Regions from separate parts of the Homo sapiens genome. Here region 1 is linked to region 2. Evidence: fine-mapped expression QTL. A gene starts in region 2. The other region holds a variant in brackets. All regions are shown on one strand. Distances are between the middles of the regions.

The links. PIP is the estimated chance that this variant, and not a neighbour inherited with it, causes the effect. A credible set is the group of variants that fine-mapping cannot tell apart.
Region 1: its variant is the best candidate, but not a certain one, in a credible set for the expression of SNX16 in sun-exposed skin (GTEx, PIP 0.54).

The regions. Positions count from the first base shown.
Region 1 is chr8:81,804,321-81,813,740 of GRCh38, forward strand. All of the region lies in intron 5 of SNX16 (sorting nexin 16), which reads right to left. It also overlaps the pseudogene HNRNPA1P36. Among named protein-coding and RNA genes, the nearest start is that of SNX16, 33 kb to the right of the region's middle. The variant G/A (reference allele first, on the strand shown) is at 4,145.
Region 2 is chr8:81,837,907-81,847,326 of GRCh38, forward strand. It overlaps SNX16 (sorting nexin 16), which reads right to left and starts at 4,279. Exons shown (of 8, transcript NM_152836.3): 1 at 4,216-4,279; 2 at 1,706-2,176. The coding sequence starts at 2,080. It overlaps LINC02235 (long intergenic non-protein coding RNA 2235), which reads left to right and starts at 4,713. Exons shown (of 8, transcript NR_170320.1): 1 at 4,713-4,765; 2 at 6,545-6,665. RefSeq lists enhancers at 3,353-4,285, 4,213-4,262, 4,694-4,963 and a silencer at 3,833-3,882.

The DNA of each region.
Region 1 (9,420 bases), 34 kb before region 2:
AAAGTAGGAATGGAGAGGAATGAAAGTGACAAAGACTTAGGTAAATCAAAAGAAACATTGACTGTGTGAAATAATAATGATGGCCAACTTTGAGGAGGGCTGTAAACAATCGGTTTCCAATATATGAGAACATATGACCATTAAATAAAAGACAATGACTACAGAAGTTAAAAACCAAGAGCAGAGAACAAAGAGAAAAACTCATTAAATAACATGAAAAGAAAGAAAGGAGTAAAAAAGCATTTTATAAAGCAGAATCAAAAGCACAAAATAAAATAATAGAAATAAATACAAATATATTGGTCATTACCATATATAAAATAAACTCAAAACTTAACAGATTTTTCAGACTGTATTAAAAAGAACTATGATGTTTAAAACAGCCATATTTAAAATACAAAAGTAGAAACATACTTAAAGGCAACAGACAAATGTTAGCCTTTTCTCCCCTACCAAAAGTTGTAGTTTTCTTAATATCTGACAGAATGCAGTTCAAGGTGATAAACATTATTAGGCACAAAGAGTCTCTACCTAATAATAAAAGTAATAATTCACCAGGAATATTTTAAATGCATAATTACAAGAAGAAATTGAACAAATCCACACCATAAGGGGTAAATTTGACATAACTCTTGGCAATTAACGGATTAAACAAAAAAATGAGTTAAGATTAAAAAAATTTTAACAATACAAATTAGTAAGTTTGATATGATGAACATATATTGAACTGTGAGTCTAACAATTAAGAAATACATATTCTTTTCAAGCACACATGGAAAATTTAGAAAATTTATCACATATGTGCAGATCCCAAAGACTGCAGAACACTGTCAACAATAACCAAGAATTGGTGTCAGACAGAACATAATCTCTGAAAAAAATGCAAATAGACTAAAAAACAGTCAATAATATTAGAAAAAAGTGCTTGAAAAATTAAAGAGAATTCTAAATTTATGGAGCAAACAAGATAATAGGAACAATATAAAATATGAACGAGAATGAAAATATTAAGACTTGTGAGATGCAATTTGACTGTTATATAAAAGAACTGTATAATACTAGAAACAACTGAGAAAGCATCCAATTAAAGAAGTCAAAGAACATACTAAAACCAAGTATAAGAAAGGAATTAAGAGACAGGAAAAGAATTTAATCAAGAGAATCAAAAAGGCAAAAAGTGGTTCTTTGAGAAGACTATTAAAATACACCAAATCCAAGGAGAAAAGACTAGTGGAAAAAACAGTGAGATTCAAAGTGGATATATAACTAAAGATATGTTAAGAGATTTTCAAAAGTCATGTGATACTACTAAGAACAACAGTTTTGCGGTGGCTCACGCCTATAATCCCAGCACTTTGGGAGGCTGAGGCGGGCAGATCACGAGGTCAGGAGACCAAGACCATCCTGGCTAGCACAGTGAAACCCCGTCTCTACTAAAAAATACAAAAAAATTAGCTGGGCGTGGTGGCGAGGGCCTGTAGTCCCAGATACTCGGGAGGCTGAGGCAGGAGAATGGCGTGAACCTGGGAGGCGGAGCTTGCAGCAAGCCGAAATAGCGCCACTGCACTCCAGCCTGGGCCACAGAGCAAGACTCTTATCTCAAAAAAAAGAAAAAAAAATGTATTTTAAAATCTATACAAAATGGTCAAGTTCTAGAAAAATACAGATTCTCAAAACTGAAACCTCCCCAAATAATCTGAATAAACTACAGACATCAAAGAAACAGAATCAGTTGTTAAAAATCTACTATAAGACAAGCTAAAGAAAATATCAAATCCAGATTGTTTTACAGGTGAATTCTAACAAACATTTAGGGAACAACCAATATGCATTTATTCAAATGGTTCTGGATAACAGAAAAAGAGGGACTATTCCTTATTTTATAAAACTGGTATAATTTTGATGCCAGACCCAACAAAGGGCAGTAACAGAAACAAATGTTACATATGCCAAAATTCTAAATAAAATCATTACAATTCAAATCCAGTAATTAAAAAAATACGCTGAATTTGCGTTAATCTCATAATCAATGTTTTATCAACTGAAAATCTATGAATGTAATTTACCACACCAATAGATTAAAAAAAACCCATATGATCATCTATACAGATGCAAGTGAAAGCATTCACACACACACACATCCCTACAACCTCTTAGCAAACTAGAAATAGAACTTCTTTAATCTAAAAACAACAACGAAAACAATAAACAAATCAACATAACTCACAACTACCACCAGCCTATAGAAAACTCCATATCCAACAGCAAAATACAGGATCATTTTCATTAAAGTTAGGATGAAAGGAAAAGGATGCCCACCATAATGGCTTCAATTAACCTCCAAAGAATCTATCTAGCAAAATAATACAGAAAAATGAAATGAAAGATATTACGTATTAGGAAAAAACACATTGTTAATATTGCAGGGGATATGATTACCGATATGGAAAATCCAAACAGATCTATAAACTAACAAGAGAATGTGACATACAAAATAGATATATAAAAATCAATAATAAAACTAGTAACTTAGAATGTAATAAAAATACCAATTATTTCATCAACAAAAATGATGAGGAATCCTATGGCTTTCCCTAGATGAAAAAAATGTAAACTTTTATTGAAGAACTTAAAAAAAAACCCTCCATATGCAAAGATCTATTAATAGGAAGATTCAATACTATAAAGATACTCTTCAAAATTAATAAATAAATGTATTAAAATTCCAAACAAAATGGCAATAGGATTTTTTCATGGAACTCACAAAGTTGTTCTAAAATTCATATGGAAAAGTGAATAGCCAACTTGGAAGAATAAGGGCACCCTTGTTCTGCCAGTTAATAAGATTATTTAATTATAGTAATTAACACAATATAGTACCAGCAGAGGGATGAGACTACTAAAAATGAACTGAGTGGCCAGGCATGGTGGCTCATGCCTGTAATCCCAGCACTTTGGGAGGCTGAGGTGGGCAGATCACCTGAGGTCAGGAGTTCAAGACCAGTCTGGCCAACATGAAGAAACTCCGTCTCTACTAAAAATACAAAAATTAGCTGGATGTGGTGGTGCGTGCCTGTAATCCCAGCTACTCAGGAGGCTGAGGCAGGAGAATTGCTGGAATCCCGGAGGCAGACGTTGCAGTGAGCCAAGATGGCGCCACTGCACTCCAGCCTGGGTGACAGTTTGAGACTCTGTCTCAAAAAAAAAAAAAAAAAAAAAAAAAAAAAGAACTGAATGACCATAAACAGACCCGTTCACACTCAACTATTTAGCATAGAAGAATTACTAATTAGTGCAGTAGGGATGAACTTTTAAATAAATGAGGTTGGGATCACTGGTCATCCATACAGAAAAAGTTAAATCAATTAAAAGATCTGAGGTCAGCTTGCTCCTTTCTGCCCGTGGATGCCGCCGAAGAAGCATTGTTAAAGTCTCTCTTCTCCCTGCTGTCATGTCTAAGTCAGAGTCTCCTAAAGAGCCCAAACAGCTGAGGAAGCTTTTCACTGGAAGGTTGAGTTTTGAAACAATTGATGAGAGCCTGAGGAGCCATTTTGAGCAATGGGGAACCCTCACGAACTGTGCGGTAATGAGAAATCCAAACACCAGGTGCTCCAGGGGCTTTGGGTTTGTCACATATGCCACTGTGGGGGAGGTGGATGCAGCCGTGAATGCAAGGCCACAGAAGGTGGATGGAAGAGTTGTGGAACCAAAGAGAGCTGTCTCAAGGGAAGATTCTCAAAGACCAGTTGCCTACTTAACTGTGAAAAAGATATTTATTGGTGGCATTAAAGAAGACACTGAAGAACATCACCTAAGAGATTATTTTGAACAGTGTGGAAAAATGGAAGTGATTGAAATCATGACTGACCAAGGCAGTGGCAAGAAAAGGGGCTTTGCCTTTGTAACCTTTCACGACCATGACTCCATGGATAAGACGGTCATTCAGAAACACTATACCATGAATGGCCACAACTGTGAAGTTAGGAAGACCTGTCAAAGCAAGAGATGGCTAGTGCTTCATCCAGGCAAAGAGGTCGAAGTGGTTCTGGAAACTTTGGTGGTGGTTGTGGAGGTGTTTTCGGTGGGAATGACAACTTTGGTTGTGGAGGAAACTTCAGGGGTCATGGTGGCTTTGCTGACAGCT[G/A]TGGTGGTGGGGGATATGGTGGCAGTGGGGATGGCTATAAGGGATTTGGTAATGATGGAAGCAACTTTGGAGGTGGTGGAAGCTACAATGATTTTGGCAGTTACAACAATCAGTCTTCAAATTTTGGACCCATGAAGATGGGAAACTTTGGAGGCAGAAGCTCTGGCCCCCATGGTGGTGGAGGCCAATACTTTGCCAAACCACGAAACCAAGGTGGCTATGGCGGTTCCAGGAGCAGCCGTAGCTATGGCAGTGGCAGAAGATTTTAATTAGGAAACAAAGCTCAGCAGGAGAGGAGAGCCAGAGAAGTAACAGGGAAGCTACAGGTAACAACAGATTTGTGAAGTCAGCCAAGCACAGTGGTGGCAGGGCCTAGCTGCTACAAAGAAGACATGTTTTAGACAAATACTCATGTGCATAGGCAAAAAACTCGAGGACTGTATTTCTGACTAATTGTATAACAGGTTATTTTAGTTTCTGTTCTGTGGCAAATGTAAAGCATTCCAACGAAGGGTTTTAATGTAGTTTTTTTTTTTTTGCACCCAGGCTGTTGATTGCTAAATGTAATAGTCTGATTGTGATACTGAATAAATGTCTTTTTTTTAATGTGCTGTGTAAAGTTAGTCTACTCTGAAGCCATCTTGGTAAATTTCCCCAACAGTGTGAAGTTAGAATTCCTTCAGAGTGATGCCAGGTACTATTTGGAATTTACATACAACCTGCTTGGGTGGGGAAGTCATTGTCTTCAGAAACCTTGGTGTAGTTGAACTGATAGTTACTGTTGTGACCTGAAGTTCACCATTAAAAGGGATTACCCAAGCAAAATCATGGAATTATTGGTTATAAAAATGATTGTTGGCACATCTTATGCAATATATTTAAATTGAGTAATGGTACCAGATAAAATTATAGATGGGAATGAAGCTTGTGTATCATCCATTATTAGGTGTAATCAATAAACAATTTAATTCTCTTAAAAAAAAAAAGACCTGAGTGTGAAAAGCAAAAGTTTACACTTATTAGAAGGAAATTTAGGAGAAATATTTTTATGTGCTGGTGTGTAGGGAAGAACAAGAGCCATAGAAAATGTGACAAAGAATGTGCAGCTACTATGGAAGATGCCAGACCTGGCTGGTAATCAAGAAAATTAGGCTAAAATAACAGTAAGATATTATTTTATACCCATCAGACTGACAAAAATTAAAAGATTGACAATACTTGTATTAGTGGTGATATAGAGCAAAAGGAAAACATATTGTTGGTAAAAGTACAAACTGATATAACAAATTTGGGGTGTAATTTTAGCATATGCAGTGAAGTTGAAGAGGAGAATATCTAACAATGAAACAATTGTATTCCTAGGAAAGTACCTTTAAAACCTTGGGTTTCTTCCAAGATTAACATCCACCCCAGTGAGGGAGGTACCTTAGGAAAAATGTATATAGGAATGGAGACTGTCCTTAGAATAGTCATTGGAAGGCTATATTGATATAAATTTCCTTCTGGGATAGAGATCAAACAGTTCCATCAGGACAGGAAAATCTGCTAGCAAGTGATTCTAAGAAAACAGCTTCATTACATATTACAATTTAGGTAGAGAATAGATGGCTTAAGAATTCTGCTTTAATTGTTTGTACTTATAATTCATATAAAATATTAAAAATTATAATTTATTTCTAATAAGCTATTCATTAATGTTAATACAGTAAGACCTCATTTCTTCCAATTATATTATCTCCATACAAGTAATAGATTTGAATTTTCCCAAAAAAAGGTAGACTAATTTATATCCCTAATCTTAATTCCCTCTTTTAGTACAAGTATATGAGGGGTAGAAATGACTACCTTAAATAGGGAACAGAGAAAAGTAGGTTAAAGATTTGCCGAACTGAGTATCCTTTGAATAAGTTTAATTTTACACTCCAAGAAATGTGGGTTAATAAGTCATTTTGGGATTTTTCTTAAAATGAGAGGCTGCTTAAGTAAGTCTGCAGACAAAAGAGATATATATCTCATTAGGTTACTGTAGATTTTACCTTGAAGGAGAGGAGCAAACACAGAATTTCTTCATTCACTGTTCAAATAAACATATATTTTCAAATACAACTGTAGGAAAATGCATTTATTTTAGAGAAAGAGTCTAGGAGATACATTCCATATTACTCTGTTGAGTGTATAAACTTAATATTGCCTTGGTGACTTATTTAAATCAGTGGTTCTACATCAGGAGCGATTTTAAACTCAGAAGACACTTGGTAATGTCTGGAGACATTTTTACTTGTCATGAGTGGGTATGCTATTGGTGTCTAATATGTAGAGGCCTAGGATGCTGCTAAATATTTTCAATGCACACGTCAGGCTGTGCTCTAGCCTCGGCCACCAAAAAGTTATCCAGCCCTAAATGCCGATAGAGTGTATGAGAAATCCTAACTCAAATCAGCTTCCACTCTTCCCCTGCCAAGTTATGATACTTGACAATACTAACTAGCATATATTTTGAACTAAGAACACTAAAAAGATATTCAAATTATTATTTTTTTGTAAAAGGGCTAATTTAAAAATTAAAAAATGAACTAAAGGCTGTCTTGCAAGAAGAAAGAATACTATACTTTAAAGGAATAAAAATCCTGGAATCCTTGAGCTGGAAAAGGAGTGATAAACACTTAGCTTCTTTAGCCCAATGTTCACTTAAAATAGAACTTAATTTTCTAAACAGATTCTAAATCAAAGAGACAAAATGGTAGCCGAAAGGCTGAATGAAACCCAGAAGCAATGATCTAGCCAGGATTTAATAGGGAGTTCTGGGAAACGATATATCTATGGGGCCTTGATAAGCTTTCCACATATCCTGGGACCCAAGCCACACAGGACAACAGAGCCCATATGCGTGTATAGAATAGGAGATGGGAAAGGATTCAGCAGAAACTAAAATCTACAGCATACTTGAAAATGACCTTAACTTTAAATACACTCCTTAGACTATATACAGATCCATTACCAGAGTGTAAAAATCTTACTAGTTTGAGGTATATAAGCAAAATTTATGACCAACTGTTGACTGAACATTAAGCTATGCAGAAATACAAGAAAGCCAGGCTTAAAAATAAAATGAGGAAAAAAACACTGAGAAAAGACATCAGTGACCACACATTGCTGAGGAGACAAACTTCACAGATTTAGTCCAGGCAAGTTACTAAACAGACAGACAAAATAATAATAACCACTATAGGAGACAGAGATTAAGAATCAAGAGTTGCTACAGTGTATCACCTAAAATATCTTGTATTCAAATAAATGTACAAAACACTCAAAGAAACAAGGTCAATCTAAGCATACTCAGGAAAAAAGGCAGTCAATTGAAGCTATCTCTAAACGGCCCCAAATGTTAGGCATATCAGGCAGTGATTTTTAATGCAACCATTACGTACATGAAATAAACTAGAAAAAATTGAATTAATGATAAGGATAATGATAATGAGTCAACAAATAGAAAAATCTCAATAAAGAGAAAGAACAGTTAAAAAATAAGCAATTGAGAATTTTGGAGTTGAAAAGCACAGTAACTGAAAAATTAACAAGAGGGGCTCAACAGGAGATTTAATATGACCGAAATATAAATCTGTGAATCTGAAGATCAATAGAAATTTTCAATCTGAAGATCAGAGAAAAAAGCAATTGAAGAAAAATGAACAGCACTTCAGAGACATTTTGCACAACACAGGGTATACAAATATACAAGTAATGACAGTCCAAGAAGGAGAAGGGAGAGAAAAAGGGAGTGAAAAAGTATTTGAAGAAATAATGGCTAACAAATTCCAAAGTTTGATATAAAACATTAATCTGTCAAGTCAACAAAGCTCAATGAAGCCAAAGCATGAGAAACAGAAAGAGATCTACACCCCAATACATCATAATCAAACTGCTGAAAGTCAAACAAACAGAATATCTTGAAAGCAGCAAGGGCAAAATGGCTCATCATGCACATGGAAACAATATAAAGGTTGATTTTTTTTTTATCAGAAATAATAGGGGCCAGAAGGCAGTGGAATGACACATTCAGAGTGCTGGAAGAAAAAAATCTGTCAGTAAAACTATCTTTCAAAAATGACCATTTCCAGCTAAACAAAGACTGTGAGAATTTGTTGCTAGCAGACCCGTCTTACAAGAAAAACTAAACGAAGATTATGAGACTGAAAGGAAGTGATACCAGATGATCACATCAACCTCCAGGAAGAAATGAAGAGGGCCAGAAATAGTAAACACGTGGATTAAATAAAATAATCTATGAAATATATTTTCCCATTTCTTAAGTTCTTTAGAGCACAAAAGACTGTATAAAGAAATAATTATTGCACTGTATTGTTAGGTTTATAAGATATATGTAAAATAGATAACAATAGCAACACAAAGAAAGAGGGAGGAAACGGAGAGATATTGGAGCCAAGTTTATATTTCACTGAAATATAATACCTTTAGCAGTCACTGAAAAATAAGAAAAAGTAAAAAATTCTACAGAAGAATCAAAATGGCATACTAAAAATTATTTTACACAAGATAAAAGGAGGAATGGGATGGAGACAGATGAGAGAAACAGAAAACAAATTGCAAAATGGCAGATGTAAAAGACAGATGTCGGAAAGAATAACAGATCAAGACCCAATTACACGCTATGTAGAAGGGATGGATCTTGGGTTGAAAGATACAAACAGATTGAAAGTAAAAGGATGGGAAAAGATATGCTATGCAAACAGTAATGATAATAGAGCTGCAGTAAACAAGACAGTATCATACTGGCACAAGGACAGGAAAATAGATCAACAGACTAGAATTAAGAGTCCAGAAACAAACCCTTCTTTTCATGGTCATTTGATTTCTGACAGAAGTGTCAACATAATTAAACAAAACGAACTAAAAAAAAATTAAGATAGGTATAGGAACTTAAGACCCTTACCTAATACCTTAAAAAAAATTAACCCAAAATAGACCATAAACCTAACTGTAAGAGCTAAAATATAAAATTAAAAATATATATATGAGAAAATATTTGTAATGTTGGGTTAGGCAAAGAGTTTTTATAATACAATAGTAAAAGCATAAGCCATTAAAAAAGTGATAAAATAAATTCATTAAAATTAAAAACTTTTGCACTTCAAAGAATGCCATTAAGAGGATGAAAAGACACCTACAGACTGCAAGAAAATATCTACAAATTGTATCTCTGATAAAGGATTAATATCTAAAGTAAAGATTTTATAACTGAATAAGATAAACAGCCC
Region 2 (9,420 bases):
ATAAATTATCTCAACAATTTTTCCTTGGAGGTCCTCCCATCCTGTCATAAATTTACAGCATGAAACATTGAAGTAAACATTAAACTTTACTAAAAGAACAAAGTCTTACCAAAAAAGTAAACCTTTTGAGTTAATAAGAGAGTTGAGCAAGGTTGCTGGATATGTAAACATAAAAGGACAAATTATATAAAATAGCAGTAAATAGAAAACAAAAATAGATGTCTCTCACAAGAACATCAAACAACATCCATATCCTGAAATAAATCTAACCAACAGATGTAAGAACCCTGCACCAAAAACAACAAAACATTACTAGAAAAAAATGACTTAAGTAAATGGATTAGGTTCATAGATTTGAAAACTCAGTAAAGATGTCAGTTCTCCCCAGATTAATCTATAGATCTAACAAAATCTCAATGCAAAGGGTGAAGAATAGCCAAGGCCATCCTGAAGAAAAAAGCTAAAGTACATACACTGCTACATATCAAGACCTATTATAAGACTTTATTAATTAAGACAGTGTGAAATTAGTAAAGGATGAAAAAATAGAACACAGAAGCAGACCCATGCATTTATGGTCACATGATTTATGACACAGACAACACTGAAAATGAAGAGGAGAGAGAGTGGTCTTTCAAATAAAAGCCTGATTAATTGGTCCCATCTGGAAAAAAAAAAAAAAAAAGACTTGACCCTCACCTCACACCATGGACAAAAATCAATTCTGGTGGTTTACGAATCTAAATGTGAAAGGTCCAACAATAAAGATTTTAGAAGAAAACATAGGACAGTATCTTTGTAGCCTTGGAGTAGGCAAAGATTTCAAAAAGTGCTAGCCATTAAAAAAAGTAATAAATCAAGCCAAATTAAAATTAAGAACTTTTGTTTATCAAATGTATTATTAAGGAATTGAAAAGGCAAACCACAGAGTGAGAGGATAGTCATAATACATGTATCTGAAAAAAAAATTATATCCAAAGTGCACAGAAAACTACAAATCAAAAGGGAGACTTCCCAAAAGAAAAATGAACAAAAATCATGCACAGATATTTCACAAGAGAATATCCAAACAGCCCAAAAAAATTTTAAATTCAATTAGTCATTAAGAAAATTCAAATTAAAACCACAACCAATGTGATATTACTCTGTACCCATGAGAACAGCTGAAATGATAAAAATGTTAAAATATCACATGTTAGGAAGCTATGGATCAACTGGAACTCTTATATGCTGCTTTTAGGAGTATAAATCAGTACAACCATTCTGAAACACTGTTCACCAATATCTTTTAAAGCTGGGCATGTAATTTGGCAAGGCTAAAGAAAAGAGACCAGATGCAAAAAGAGTATATAATTCCATTTAGATAAAGTACAAAAATAGGCAAAATTAATCTAGGCTATACAAAAGTATTGGGTGAATGGGTCCTGACTGGCAGAGAACCTAGAGCATTTAAGATTCTAGTAACGTTCTTTTCCTTGATTTATGTGCTATTAATAGTTACATAGGTGTGTCTGGTTTGTGAAAATTTATTAAGGTAAAGCAAAAGTTTACTACAACATGATAGAATTCAGTGGTGTAAAAACCATTAGAATTTCATATTCAAGAAATTATAAGTACAAGTTTACATTAATTTAACACTGGTTTGAACACAGAGATTAGCCAATCTTTCACTTTGTAGTGTTATACAGCAGAAGTCAATACTTACAGTAAATTTAGCTCTTTCTTCCATCACTTCATAACCCAGTATAGTAGGTGTAGATGGTCTATCTTCCCAATTCACTGTTTCCGGATTTTGTTCTTCAGTGTCTCTTGGTCTAGTAGAATACTCAATGGAAGAAGCTGTACCTGTAAATTTAGTCCTAATGAGGGGACTGCTACAGACAGATGAAGTATTATCCATTTGATCAGGAACACTTGTCTGTTTAAAATTACCCATATTTGAGTCTTCTAACTGGCCCTTAGAAGAATTTGAGCTTGTTGAGACACTGCCAAAAGAAGAACTTCTTTGATTTCTGTTTGTTGTAAAACTGGAAGCAGAGTTTCCTATGGGCATAGGAACTGGGACATAAGGAGTTGCCATCTTCTTTTGGCTTTTCCAACAAGCTTGCACACTGTTGAGTCCACTTAGAGAACAACTAATATGCAATCCATTATTTTCTTCTTAGGAATTCACTATCTAAAAATGAAAAGGACATATTAAAAGGTTAGTCTTTAATGTGCAGCAGGATTCAAAAGAAAAGTATTCTTTTCAATTTTATGACACTATTATTTTATTTGGAATGAAAACATACCTCAAACCCCTTCTCCCAGTTGTCTTTAAGGACTCCTATTTGCAAGATAGAGAGAGCAAAACTACTTCACACTCTTTTTCCTTGACTCCATGTTACATGTTATCCCTTTTTCCTCTACTTTATTCCCTTGTGAAGTATTTCTGTAAAGTTCATTTTAACCTGATTTCATGTATGTAAAAGTTGGTAGGAGAAAGATTGGTAAAGACCCTTCTGAAGCTTTATTCCATGCTTATCATCTTGACAGTACTACATTCAGTACAAGAGAGAAAAAAGAAAAGGAAGAAAACTATTTACATTACCTCTGGATTTAATCAGAAAGGGAGGAAATCTATTCACATTACCTTTCAATTTAATTAGTGAAACTATAAAGATTTACACAGAGTAGTAACAATGAACCAGATGCTTTGATGCTACATAGTATAATTCTATAGAACCCAGGATTAAAAATACACACTTGGTCAAGTTACTCAAATAAAACCCAGTGAACACTGAACTTATATGCAACAAAATTAAATAGTGAAAATTGTAACCGTTCTTCACAGCTTACAGGTCATCACTAATTCTGCTCTACGATAAACTGAGGGTATTTAAATCTTTATAACTTACACTCAAGAATCTGTTATCAAACGGACCAGTATATCTTGTGTCAGAATAGTATCATAACACAAAGAAGAAATGGTTTACTATTACTTTGTTAAATAATAAACTCATAAGAAACTGTAACAACTACAGACCAACAAAATGACAAGACTACACACAACAATAACTGCCCAACTTTTCATACGAAACTCTACTGGTGGGAAAGGTAAGAAATGAGTCACCTGGACTTGGAAAGATGCTGAAATAAGATTTTTAACTCTGGGCTGGGCGCTGTGGCTCACGCCTGTAATCCCAGCACTTTGGGAGGATGAAGCGGGTGGATCGCCTGAGGTCAGGAGTTCGAGGCTAGCCTGGCCAACATGGTGAAACCCCGTCTCTACTAAAAATACAAAAATTAGCCGGGCATGGTGGCGCAGGCCTATAATCCCAGCTACTTGGGAGGCTGAGGCAGGAGAATCGCTTGAACCCGGGAGGCGGAGGTTGCAGTTTGCCGAGATCGTGCCATTGCACTCCAGCCTGGGCTACAAGAGGAAAACTCCGTCTCAAAAAAAAAAAAAAAAAAGATTTTTAACTCAAGTGGCTCTCGGCAACATTTCCCCATTATCAAAGATTCATGAAACTTTAGCTGCTGATTCACCGCTCCTCGGTTCCGCCTGACGGCCTCCCCAAAAACAAGTAAGTCTGAAATCTCAACCTTCTCAAGGTCCGAGGGATCTACCTGGCCTTTGCCACTCTACTACCTGAGGCCGCCTGGCTGGGGGGAGGTCGCATATCAATACATATCAACACAACCACTGACGTCCGAAGATGTGAGCGCTACCCAAGCGTTAAAAAAACAAAACAAGCAAACAAACAAACAAAAAAACGTGCTGTGCTCATTAGGAGCGTCTTCGCCTCTACCCTGATGCGGAGTTGCTCCCAGGACGCTCAGTTCATTCTCACTCTGGAAAACCTCAGGTGAGGTGGCCCGACTCTGAGCAACCCCGTGGGCGGGAGGAAAGAGGCAAATACCAGGCACAGTTCGACCCTCGGAAGGTAAGGCCGGGGTCTGCGCCGGTCACGGGTCTTCCGCACTGCAGGCGGCGAGACCCGCAGCTCCCTGGGATCACAGACTCTCCCGCCTCCGCTGACCGGTGCGCGCCCAGCGCCTCCCAGACGCACAGTGGGGTCGGCGGTGGCCTGAAGGTGGCTGGGCTTCCTGCGGCGCCTCTCCACTCTCCCGCGGAGCCCCTTGCCGCCCGCCAGACATCAAGGTTGCAGGTGTCACCCGTACGAGAACCCGGGACAGCGACCGCCTGTCCTGAGGTAATGACCCAGTCTTTACCTCAGCCCCCTCGGCGATCCCGAACGAGCGCGCTTCCCGGTGACGGTTAAACCGGACTCTCCTTAACCGCAGCTTTTCGCCTCCTCCCTCAGCAGCGAGAAGCCTCACGTGACACCCCCGCCCCAAAAGCAGCTGCTCCCCGCCTCAGCCAGTCTCTGCCCGGGCCCAAGATCCCTGCTGTGTGGAAGGAGGGGCCGAACTGGGCGGGGGGGGGGGGGGGGGGAGAGAGAGAGAGAGAGAGGGAGGGAGGGAGGGAGGGAGGGAGAGAGAGAGAGAGAGAGAGAGAGAGAGAGAGAGAGAGACAGAGACAGAGAGAAAGAGAGAGAGAGAGGGCAAGAGCGAGAGACAGAGAGAGAGAGAGAGAGAGAGAGAGAGAGAGAGAGAGAGAGAGAGAGAGAGAGAGAAAGAGAAAGAAAACGAGCGAGGGAGAGAGCGAGAGCGAGAGAGAGAGAGAGAGAGCGTCACACACACATCTCTGCCGGAAGTGATGTCACGGCATGGGCGCCCGCCCACCGGAGGAGCGACTGGAGTTGATCGGCTGGGCGCTCAGGTAGCGAAGATAAATGTAATCTTGTGGCAGGAAATCGACATTCTCTGCACTATCTTTAGTTTTCCAACTGAACTTCTGAGAAATGGAGGCTACAATACCTAGTTTGCCAAACAGGAGAAGACTACAATTCCCAGAAGGAACTGCGACCAACATTGGTCCGTGCTCATACTTTGCATCATGGGACTTGTAGTCATCACCAGCTTGCGCTGATTCTAACAGGTTATAGATTGTTTTCTAGAATTAGCAGCGCTTTAAGGGATGACAATCGATTAGAAGAGTAGGAAGATAGAACACTGCTTAGTAGCTGATCCGTTCTACATAATTCAGAAGTTCTCATTGGCAGAGAACCCCTGAAATTCTGTAGTGTCTTTTTACTATCCGGTGAGCAATTTGATCCCGATGATGGAATATTAGCCTTGTTAGACATGCGCTTCTGAAGACCTGTGCAGTAGGGAAAGCCGAGTTTTTTGATAGGCAAATCCCAAGATTCAGACCGGTCTACAGGTCTGTTCATCATTAGAATCAGATAATGTGGTTGAAAAATCATTCCACGATTTCTAAGGCTTTTGTATAGTCCCAATGTTACCCATGGAGGGTCTTGACTACAAGTCATCCAGGTTCTTGGTTTTTTTAACAAAGAATTGGACAAAACGCACAAAGAAAGCAAGGAAAGAATGAAGCAAGGAAAGCAGAGATTGAAATGACTGTACACTCCACAGAGTGGGAATGGCCTCCAGCCAGTGGCTCAAGAGCCCTGGTTACAGGATTTTCTGGAGTTTAAATATCCGCTAGAGATTTCCCATTGGTTACTTGGTTTACACCCTCTGTAAATTAAGGAGTAGCCTGCAACCAATCAGAGGCTAAAGTTAAGTTACAAAGTTGTACTCCTATGGAAATGAAGACTAGGCCCAGATACCAAGGGCCTAGAAGGTTGGGCAGGGGGTTGCAAAGGGAATAGCCTCTGGTCTTTTTGTTACTTGGGCTTGGAAAGTTGGAGTTTTCCTTTTGATTTAGTTCTAGGAAGTCAGCGTGAATGGGCCTTAGGTTCCCTGCCTCCGGACCCTATTCTACTGCCCGACTAAGAGTGAGAAAAGGTGATAGTGGTCATTTTGAAATGAAGGTTGGAAAATAGTCTGGTTTGTGACATGATGATGGTTTTGGTTTAAGAGATTCTGCCCTTTTAGTGTGAATGAAATAAAAATAGAATTCTGTAGAAACAATGTTAGGTAGGAGAATAGGGTCTGGAAACAGGGGACCTAAGGCTGATTCATGCTGACTGATATCAGAGGCGACTCCATTTTCAACCCCTCTTTTTTCTGCGTGGCAGTTGCTGCGTGGCAGTTGCAACCCTCCTTTCTTTGGGTGGCAGTTGAAAAATGAAAGAACCTCTGATAGAGCCCCTCCCTCAACCAATCAGACTGGTTGAGGGCCTACTTTTCACTCTGATTGGTCTCCTTCCACAACCAATCAGACTGGGCATAGGCCAATGGGAACCCTCTAGAGGGTATTTAAGCCCCAGAAAATTCTGTAGCTGATGCTCTTGAACCCCTTGACTGAGTCTGTTTTCCTTCTGTGGAGTATACTTTCATTTAAAATAAATCTCTGCTTTCCATGCCTTGTTTGTGTGTTCTGTCCAATTCTTCGTTCAAAACACCAAGAACCTGGACAACTACCCTCAATTGGTAACATATTTTGGTGAGCCAGCCAGAAGGTAAGCCCAAAGTTTGGGATTTGTATTTTTCTTTTTCCTCTTTCTCTCTCTCCCTTTTCCTTTCCAAGCTGGGATCCTTGATGGACAGTGCCTAAGCATGGAGGCAACTGCAGGTTTCTGGCCAGGGCCACTCTCTGGTGAAACTAAAAGGTCCATGTGGAAGCACCTGACTGCCACCACCTGGTTCAGGTGAGGAACCTGAGTTCTTTTCTTTTTCAGTCTTTCAGTGGCCATTTCCTAGTAGCTCCTTGGTAACTGAAGGCAACTGGGGCCACTCTCTGGTGTTAACTGAAGGCCCAGGAGTGAATGGGGATAGCTGCCTTGCCCAGAAAGGGGAAGGACTCTTTTCTGTCTTTTCCAGTTGTAGTCCCTGATGCCTATGAGTGATGCAATTGGCAGTGGCAGCCTGTCCAGGGAAAATTCACACATGTTTCAGGTGGCTTAAGCCTTCTTTCCTTATGTTAAATTCTTCCGTCCCCCTACTTGACTGGCTAAGGATAAGTCACAGAGTTTGGGCATATTGTGGTCTGTGTAACTCATGGAGGGGATTCATGAAAGGGAATCTATGTACAATTTAATCTTGTCCAAATTTAGAAAGTTAAAGAATTGTTTTAAGTGTGATAGGAAAAAAAATCCAAAGGTTTGTCTGAAAGTTAATTCTAGAAGTAGAGACCTTCATCCAGGGACAAGAGGGAAAACTCACAGTGGGTCATCAGTGGTGGTTGGAATCATTCCAAAGTGGTGGTGGCACCAATCTAAGGTCAGAGACGTCTAATGTACTAAGAGGGGTCTCTGGCACTAGAGGATTGACTGCACCCGCTCCCACCAAGGGGCTCAGTTAGGCAAAAGTCTAGCAGTGTGAAAGGAGGAATTAGATGAAGACTGAAGGGGCCTAGAGTCTTCCTCACTGCCCCTGTCCAGGAACATCATAATTACTATTGCAGAGCCCTGGGTAACTAGATGTCATGGGTACCCAAATTCAGTTTTTTTTTTCCAATACAGGGGCGAATTACTCTGTCCTTACTGCTTATGCAGGAAAACTTTCCTCCCAGTCTAAGAGTGTTCCGGGAATGGAAGGAAAGCCACAAACGAGATTCTTTACTTCTCCTTTGTCAGTTTGAGAAACAAATGTTCCAACATAAATCTTTAGTAGTTCCAAGCTGCCTTGTCCACCTGTTGGGAAGCGATATTATCATTAAAATAGGGGCACTACTACAAATTTAAGCATTACCCAGTAAAATTGCTAATAGTCAAAAATACAGACAATATCCCAGACCACATTAATAAACAGGTTAACCTGCTAGCATGTTATGCTGGGAAGCCAGGTGTATTAGTCCATTTTCACACTGCTGATAAGGACAAACTCGAGACTGGATGATTTACAAAAGAAAGAAATTTAATGGACTTGCAGTTCCATATAGCTGGGGAGGCCTCCAATCATGGTGGAAGGCAAGGGAGGAGCAAGTCACATCCTACGTGGATGGTAGTAGGCAAAGAGAGAGGTTGTGCAGGCAAACTCCCTCTTATAAAACTCTCAGATCTTGTGAGGCTTGTTCATGATCATGAGAACAGCAAGGGAAAGACCTTCCCCTATGATTCAATTACCTCCCACTGGGTGTCTCCTATAACATGTGGGAATTCAAGATGAGATTTGGGTGGAGACACAGCCAAACCATATCACCAGGGAAAGCTAAAACAGCAGTGCCAGTCAAAATACCAGTTTAAAGACCCCAGCTATTGCCCCAATTGAAAACAATACCCATTTAAGCTGGAAGCAAGAAAAGGCCTGGCATCCATAGTTGAGATATTGCTTACCCATGAGCTCTTAAAAACCTGCAATTCTCCCTGAAACACCCCCATCTTAACCATTCTAAAGCCCTTGAGGGAATACCTGCTAGTACAGGATTTCAGAATAATTTATCACACTGTTATCCCCGTCCACCCATTGGTGGTGGATCCATATACCCTCCTGGCTTAGGTGCCAGGGGATGCAAAATGTTTCTCCTAGACCTAAAAGATGCTTTCATCTCTATTCCTCTGGCCCCAGAATCCCAATACCTTTTTGCCTTTGAATGGGAAAATCCTAATACCAGAAAAAAAAAAAACAATACATTTGGACAGTACTCCCTCAGGGCTTTCAGGATAGCCCTGATTTCTTAGCCTGATCTGTAGAGAGGGATCTGAGGGATCTGCAATTGGAGAATGGAAGTATATTCCAGTATGTGGTTGAACTTCTTGTGTGTAGCCCAACCCAGGAGGCTTCTGACCAAAATACTATAAAAACGTTGAATTTCCTGGCTGACAGAGGATGTGAAGTGTCCAAAAAGAAGGCTCAGATTACCCTCCAATGGATCCAATATTTAGGGTATGTCTTAACACCGGGAACCCGACAAATATCCCCAGAATGAGTGCAAGCCATATGTGGTTGCCCCACAGCCACCAAGCGCAGCTTTGTTCTTTCTGGGGAATGGCTGGGTTTTGCAGAATATTGGTACCAAATTTGGGGCTTGTAGCAAAGCTCGTATATGAAGCAACAAGGAGGCCTGAAAATGAGCTAACGGAATTGACCCCAGAAATGAGAAGCCTTCACCAAGCTAAAATAGGCCCTTACCAGGCTCCTGCTCTTGGCATCCCAGACATAACTAAGCCCTTCTTGTATGTAGCTGAGAAGGGCGTAGCTGTGGGAGTGCTAGCCTAGAAATTAGGATCAGAACCCAGACCAACTGCCTGCTTTTCAAGGAAGTTGGATGGAGCAGCCTCGAGATGACCAAGTTTCCTGCAGGCAATAGCCACTGCTATGTTTGTGGAGGAAGCCACTAAAATCACCCTGGGCCAACCACTGGAAGTTCTAACCCCCCATCAGGTAAAGCCAGTCTTAGAGATAAAAGGACACATGTGGATGATGGAGGAAAGGTTAAACATATGCCAGGCCATGCTGCTAGAC